Linked DNA regions of Homo sapiens. The protein of the gene in region 2 purifies or fractionates together with the protein of the main gene of each other region. This does not show direct contact. Each region holds a gene or a part of one and is shown on either strand. Other genes may lie near its edges.

What was found. The genes of interacting proteins can lie anywhere in the genome.
Region 1: the proteins of RFFL (region 2) and PRKD2 purify together in Homo sapiens (affinity purification with mass spectrometry; 4 studies listed by BioGRID and IntAct, with this or other methods). This does not show direct contact.

Annotation. Positions count from the first base shown.
Region 1 is NC_000019.10:46,703,371-46,707,121, reverse strand, and holds part of PRKD2 (serine/threonine-protein kinase D2), read left to right. Parts: intron 1-2,472; coding exon 2,473-2,627; intron 2,628-2,730; coding exon 2,731-2,953; intron 2,954-3,751.
Region 2 is NC_000017.11:35,014,974-35,018,724, forward strand, and holds part of RFFL (E3 ubiquitin-protein ligase rififylin), read right to left. Parts: intron 2,634-3,751; coding exon 2,550-2,633; intron 1,608-2,549; coding exon 1,397-1,607; intron 1-1,396.

The DNA.
Region 1 (3,751 bases), on a different chromosome or scaffold from region 2:
AGGAGTTAGAGACCAGCCTGGCCAACATGGTGAAACCCTGTCTCTACTAAAACTAGAAAAATTAGCTGGGTGTGGTGGCGGGTACCTATAATCCCAGCTACTCGGGAGGCTGAGGCAGGAGAATCATTTGAACCTGAGGGGGTGGAGGTTGCAGTGAGCCGAGATCATACCATTGCACTCCAGCCTGGGTGACAGGGTGAGACTCCGTCTCAAAAAAAAAAAAAAAAAAGAAATCCAGTTTCTCCAATATCCTGTGTTCCAGATCATCATGCAGTCCAAAGTATACTTGTATTATTTAAGGACTCTAGGCCTGCAGATACTGATTCAGTGCATTAAAAGCTCTTATAAATATTGCCATCGTCCACACACCATATCCAACTCTTGAGGTCTCAGCATATGCAGTCTTTGTCATGATACAGCCCTGGTGTCATCAAGTCCTAATGGGTTATCAGCACAGACTTCACTGGTGCAGCATCACAGATGATGGTCCCAGTTCCTATGGTGGCAAGAGAACCCCAAATGACTACATTCCGACAGGAGTTTAACTCTATCCTGAGACTCATTCTGAGAGTTATAGATAAGATTCTGAAATTCTGGAAGGCACATGAGTGATTCAAGGCCAACACTGGGAAATGGTTCCTGTGTGCAAAGACCATTTGCCCTGCTGAAGCTCTTCTTGCAGGGCCAACACCGTTCTCCAAGCTTGCCTCCGTGATTACAGCATGCAGCCAAGACAGTGCCTACAATGAGGAGGTGTGGAACTGGAAAGCCTGGAGCAGGCGGGTACCAGAAGGGCTCCCAAAGGCTGGAGGAACATTCTTCACTCCAGAATAGAAAGCGATCCTGGAATCGTTTGGAATCACTGGAGATGTATTAGAGCACACATACAGAACGTCCAGTGGGAAACAGGGAGTTGAGCTGATTTCTCCATGGATGAGGATTTTAAAAGATAAAATAGGCAGGGCACAGTGGCTCATGCCTGTAATCCCAACACTTTGGGAGGCTGAGGTGGGAGGATCACTTGAGCCCAGGAGTTCAAGACCAGCCTGGGCAATGTAGCGAGACCCCATCTCTACAAAAAAATAAAAATAAAAAAATTATCTGGGCATGGTAGTGTATGTCTGTGGTTCTGGCTACTCAGGAGGCTGAGGCAGGAGGATTACTTGAGCCCAGGAGTTGAAGGCTGCAGTGAGCTATGATTGTGCCATTGTGCTTCAGCCGGGGGTACAGGGAGATCCTGTCTCTACAAAATAAAATAAGACAATAAGAAGTCATACTTCTGCCTAGTATGGTACAATGGACCTGAGTACAACTGAGAACTCTTTTTTTTTTTTTGAAACTGAGTCTCGCTGTATTGCCCAGGCTGGAGTGCAGTGGCGTGATCTCAGCTCACTACAACCTCTGCCTCCTGGGTTCAAGTGATTCTCCTGCCTCAGCCTCCGGAGTAGCTGGGATTACAGGCGTGTGCCACTACACCCGGCTAAGTTTTGTATTTTTAGTAGAGATGGGGTTTTGCCATGTTGGCCAGTGTGGTCTCAAACTCCTGACCTCAAGTGATCCGCCGGCCTTGGCCTCCCAAAGTGCTGGGATTACAGGCGTGAGCCACCATGCGTGGCCCACACTACTAAGATTTAATCACACTACTTAGGGATTGCCTGGATTCCAGGTCTACAGAAAAGAGAAAGTGGGGTACAGGGGGTGAGCAGACCTGGAGGGATAGTGACCTTAGGGGTGGGGGTGAGGAGAGGCATTTTCTTTTGGAAAGTTGGGGTTGGGGAAAGAGGGGGAACCAAAGGGGCCTCAGAAAAAGGAAGGTCAGGGTTAGAAGGGGGAACAGGTGTCTCTAGGGAGATGGACAGGAGTTTTGGGGAGGACTAGAAGGAGGTGCTTACCATAGAGGACTGGGGCTGGGTCAGAGCTTTGGCGGGGACTTTTGAGGCATCCATTGTTGCAGTGGGAAAAGGTGGGGTGTGAGGCGCGTTCAGGGCCTGGGGGGCAGATGGGGTGATGTCGGGGCTACAAGCTGGAACTAGGGGTGGAGCTTTGGAGGGAACCTTTGAGGTATCCCTTGTTGGAGTGGGAAAATTTTGGGTGTGAGGCGTGTTCAGGGTCTGGGGGACAGATGGGGTGATGGCAGGGCTACAAGCTGAAACTGGGGACAGAGCTTTGGGGGGAGCCTTTGAGGTGTCCCTTGTTGGAGTGAGAAAAGGGGTGTGGGTGTGTTCAGGGTCTGGGGGACAGATGGGGTGATGGTGGGGCTACAAGCTGGAACTTGGGGCAGAACTCTAAGGAGGGGTGGGCCTGAAGGGGCTGATACACTTACGGATAGTAGTGCCTTTTGGAGGAGATCGTGCTGGCGGGGGGTGATGGGACAGGACCAGGTGAGAGATTGGGTGGAAAGGGCACAACTTCTCAAGAAGAGACCTAGGAGGGGCAGACGCCATGTCTCTTACTCTCTGGCGCCCCCTGCAGGCTGCGGGCTGAACTACCACAAGCGCTGTGCCTTCAGCATCCCCAACAACTGTAGTGGGGCCCGCAAACGGCGCCTGTCATCCACGTCTCTGGCCAGTGGCCACTCGGTGCGCCTCGGCACCTCCGAGTCCCTGCCCTGCACGGCTGAAGAGCTGGTGAGGAGATGGGGGATGGGACGGGTTGGTGGCTAGGGGGGTGACTTGGCCCAGGCATGGGGCCAACGCACTGATGTGTCCCCTCCATTCTTGCCAACGACAGAGCCGTAGCACCACCGAACTCCTGCCTCGCCGTCCCCCGTCATCCTCTTCCTCCTCTTCTGCCTCATCGTATACGGGCCGCCCCATTGAGCTGGACAAGATGCTGCTCTCCAAGGTCAAGGTGCCGCACACCTTCCTCATCCACAGCTATACACGGCCCACCGTTTGCCAGGCTTGCAAGAAACTCCTCAAGGGCCTCTTCCGGCAGGGCCTGCAATGCAAAGGTTAGCTGGGCCTGTCGGGGAGGACAGACAGGGTCAGAACCTCCTTCCCGCCCCAACCTGGTCTTGTGGCAGGACACAAGGATCTGAGCCTTGGGACCCCAGGGCCTCAGAAGGGGAGGGCCCTGAATCCTAGTGTTCTGGGACCTTTGGAATTCTGGAATCTTAGAACCTCAGTTGTGTGTGTGTGTGTGTGTGTGTGTGTGTGTGTGTTGTTGTTGTTTTTTGGAGACAGGGTGTCACTCTATCACCCAGGCTGGAGTGCAGTGGCGCAATCACGGCTCACTGCAGCTTCAACCTCCTGGGTTCAAGTGATCCTCCTGCCTCAGCCTCCCAAGTAGCTAGGACTACAGGTGGTGCCACCACACCCAGCTAATTTTCTTTTCTTTTTTTTTTTTTTGAGACGGAGTCTCACTCTGTCGCCCAGGCTGGAGTGCAGTGGTGTGATCTCGGCTCACTGCAAACTCTGCCTCCTGGGATCAGGACATTCTCCTGCCTCAGCCTCCTGAGTAGCTGGGACTACAGGCGCCCGCCACCATGCCTGGCTAATTTTTTTGTATTTTTAGTAGAGACGGGGTTTCACCATGTTAGCTAGGATGGTCTCGATCTCCTGACCTTGTGATCCACCTGCCTCGACCTCCCAAAATGCCGGGATTACAGGCGTGAGCCACCGCGCCTGGCCACACCCAGCTAATTTTTAAATCATTTGTAGAGAGAAGGTATCACTATATTGTTCAGGCTGGTCTTGAACTCCTGGGCTCAAGCAATCCTCCTACCTCGGCCTCCCAAAGTGCTGGGATT
Region 2 (3,751 bases):
TTTATTTTTTTGAGATGGAGCCTCACTCTCTTGCCCAGGCTGGAGTGCAGTGGCATGATCTTGGCTCACTGCAACCTCTTTCTCATGGGTTCAAGCGATTCTCCTGCCTCGGCCTCCTGAGTACCTGGGGACTACAGGCACATGCCACCACTCCCGGCTAATTTTTTGTTTTTGGTGGAGATGGTGTTTCACCATGTTGCCTATGCTGGTCTTGAACTCCTGATCTCAAGTGATCCACCTGCCTCAGCCTCCCAGAGTGCTGGGATTACAGGCATAAGCCAACACACCCAGCCTGGTCTACTCTTAGGAAAAGGTATTCCACCAGTTTGCACAAACTGCCAAGTAGAAGGATACTGTATATGTGCAATATCCTTTTCTATTTTGAAGTCAGCATTAAAGTCAAGAAAGAATGAACTATCTAGCTGTTTCAGTCAGTCAGAGAATCTGGATAAAGTTCCCACGTGGAGTCATCTGTTCTGTTCCCCAGGTCCTGACGACTGGAGAGAAGACTCTTGAAACAATCCCAAAGGGAAAACAGACTCCATGTCAGTAGGCCTCAGTCTGTAATCGGGTGAAGAGTCAGTCAGATGACCCCTAACACTGATGAATTTGAGCTACTGGTAGAAGAGAGCCTGAAACCTGACTTCAACCACTCTTACCAAGCAAGGAATCAGTATGTTGCTCTGTAGGAACCAAATCAACTGGGGATGGGAGGAAAGGAGAAGATTCTGTGGTGAAATAATTTCAGGAAATGCTAAGTTCAAAACAGCCAAAACACATTTCTCTTCTGCAGGACTTCTCTGCCTTTAATATAAAAATCTACCATAAATCAGTAATGAAGATATGAGGTATTTTTCCCTAAACTCATTTAACCACAGACCCAGATATTTTCCTGGGCATCTCCTGAATGATACAGTGTAAAATGCTCTGGGAAATGAACAAAAGGAAGAGCCCAAGTGCAGATGGAACAGCTATCTTCTCCTGCCATGTATGTAGATTCACTTTCTACCTCCCAAATCTTCAGAACAAGCATTCTTATTCTAAGGTAAGAAAACTTACAAGGTGGTGGTGAGTAGGGAGGGGATAGCATATGGTGAGAAAGGCTATGGACTTAGACCATAAAATTTTCAGTTAAATTTTACCTTTCAGATAAAGGGGTGATGCTAATAATGTCTATTTCATAGGTTGCTCTAAGGAATAAATACATACATGCAATGCCTAATCTAGTTTTGACACTCAACCACAAATGACAGCTATTATTAGACGGTGCAAATATGTAAGGTGTCTCCTTCCATGGCTTAAGTGTGGAAATTGAGTCAGGTCAATACCATCATGCTTTGGAGTGACAGCAAACACTCCTGAGCTCTGTAAAGCTACCATGCAGATAGCCCCTCACCCAGGTGCTGGAGTCCTTTCTGATCCTTGTATAGCCGGGTCACTCTCTCCATCAGCTCCCACTTCTCACAGCAGCCCTTGTAGTTGACAAAGTTGCGAGCCAAGATCTCTTTCAGCTGCCGCACTGTCAGGCCTTCAATGTCCTCCAGGTCAGTCAGGTCAGACAGAGAGGCCCTTCGGCCTGGGACAAAGCTGTCCTCTGAGTCAATAGACTGCAATGACAAAGATGAGATCAGTGTGCTCAGCTCTTACCTCCCCAAGCTCTTTCTCCAAGGACCCCAAAGCAGTCACCACATCATAATTTTGGTGACTGACCTCATGAAGGGTAGGAACAGAGACAGGATGAGTACCTGGCATGGTGCTCTGCATTGCAAAATATACTAGAATCTCTTCCTGACCCACGATTCTGTGCTCAGGAGCAAACAGACACAGACCAACCAATCAGTGTGATATAGTACTAGATAGAAGTATAGTAGAAGGAGTGCTGGTTTGAGTCATATGACCCTAATTTTGAATCTTGACTCCTCTGCTGTTAATGCTAAATAATATCCAGCAAGTTGCTTACCACTCTGAGCCCGTTTGCCCCTCCATTAAGGGGAGAGAGCAGTCCTACCCCACAGGGGTCCTGTAGAGGTTAAATATGGCCGCACATGAAACCCAGCATGGTGCTGGCCCTTCTCCCCTGGAGACTTCTGCTTGCCCACAAGAGGCACATTTCCCTGGCAAGTACTCCTCTATACACAACCTTGGCCACAGCTCCCTGGTCTGTGCTCTGGACTGGCCCTGCCTGGCTAATTGTCTGACCTCCTTCCCTTGACAATGGCTACAGTGTGCTAGAAGCAAGGAAAGAACAAGACTTTAACAGCAGGACCACAAGCCTGCCCTCCGGCAGCTCTTAGAAAGTCAAGAGACTGGAAATACAATGGGCCATGAGGCTTCTCCGTCTCCACTGTGACCTCACAACTCCTTATAAATACACTGACCGCTTCACTAGTTAACCTGGAACACTAACACTAAACCCTACCCCAAAAATATAATTTCGGAAGCACTATCATCACACATTTATTCTCTCTCCACTCGACTCTGCTAAGAGGTTCCGAAGAACACCAGTGAAAGAGGAAAGGTGAAGACACAGACCCAAGCAGAGGCCCCACCTGGGTCTCATCCTCAGCAGGTACTCTGGCCACGCTCTCCAGGTAGACGGGTTCCTCTTGATCCTGAGACACATGGCCATTGGCCTGTGGGAAGAGAAAAGTAACATCACATCTAGAGATGTCCCAGAGATCTGCATAGCATGGGCCTCTTTTCAACTCACACAATGTCCAGAATGTACTCCCATCATGCCCAGAAATCCGGAGCCTCTTACAGCATCATTACAAAAGCCTGCTCTCTCATACCAACTTTGTCAAGCAGAGAAACAACAAAAATACATTTCAATAGACAAAGCTGCCCTCTAGAACAAAACTGCATTAATTCTGCACACACCAGGATGGCAGTAGCCACAACTCATCATCAATTTAATCTCAGCTTGAGCACCACAGGTGAAGGGAAGGTCATTGTGTCCATTCCACTGCTGGACTGCTCTCTATCTGGCATCAAGGTTTTTCTTGACACTGATCCAAAATTGCCATCCCTATCCCTGGTTCTGCTCCTCAGACCATAGTCTCCTGGGGTTTTTGTTTGTTTGTTTTTTGTTTTTCCCAAACTGTTTATACCATGTTTTCCCCTCCTTCACACTAAATCTCCCTGGCTTCCTTATCTGACACTGATGGGACAAAGTTTCCAGATCATCACCACCCTAGTCTCTTTCTTTTCTGCCTAGTAACTACTCTCACATTCTGGAAATGTGCTCCCCATGTTGAGCACACTATTATTAAGTGCTATGTCCAGACCTAGTCAAAGAGTATTTTAATGTATCTAAGAATCTATTAGCCTAACACTATATAAAACACTGCCTATGCTTACGGAATTTCATTATGCTTAGAATTCTCACTTCTCAAAAGGTTCCTCCTGAGTACTCTTTTAGGAGGTTTGGCCAAAGAGTAGGCAGAACTGTTAGCCTCCTAATTCCATCACCATTTAAGCCACAAACCCCTTAAGTAGATCCTCTTCGCCCACTGCTCCCTGCAGGCAAAGGGCCTGCTGTGAGCTCAGAGCAAAGAGGTGTCTGAGCTCACAGGCCTTTTCCACCAGATTCTGGGGATGCCAGTGAAGGGACAATCTGGGAAACCAAAGACACCCACCGACCCCAGCCACTCACCCCACATTAGGATTCATAATATGGAGCTAATCAAGAAGAGGCAACCAACTGCAATGGAAATGAAAAGCAGAAGTAACAAAATGCCAAATCAAGGCA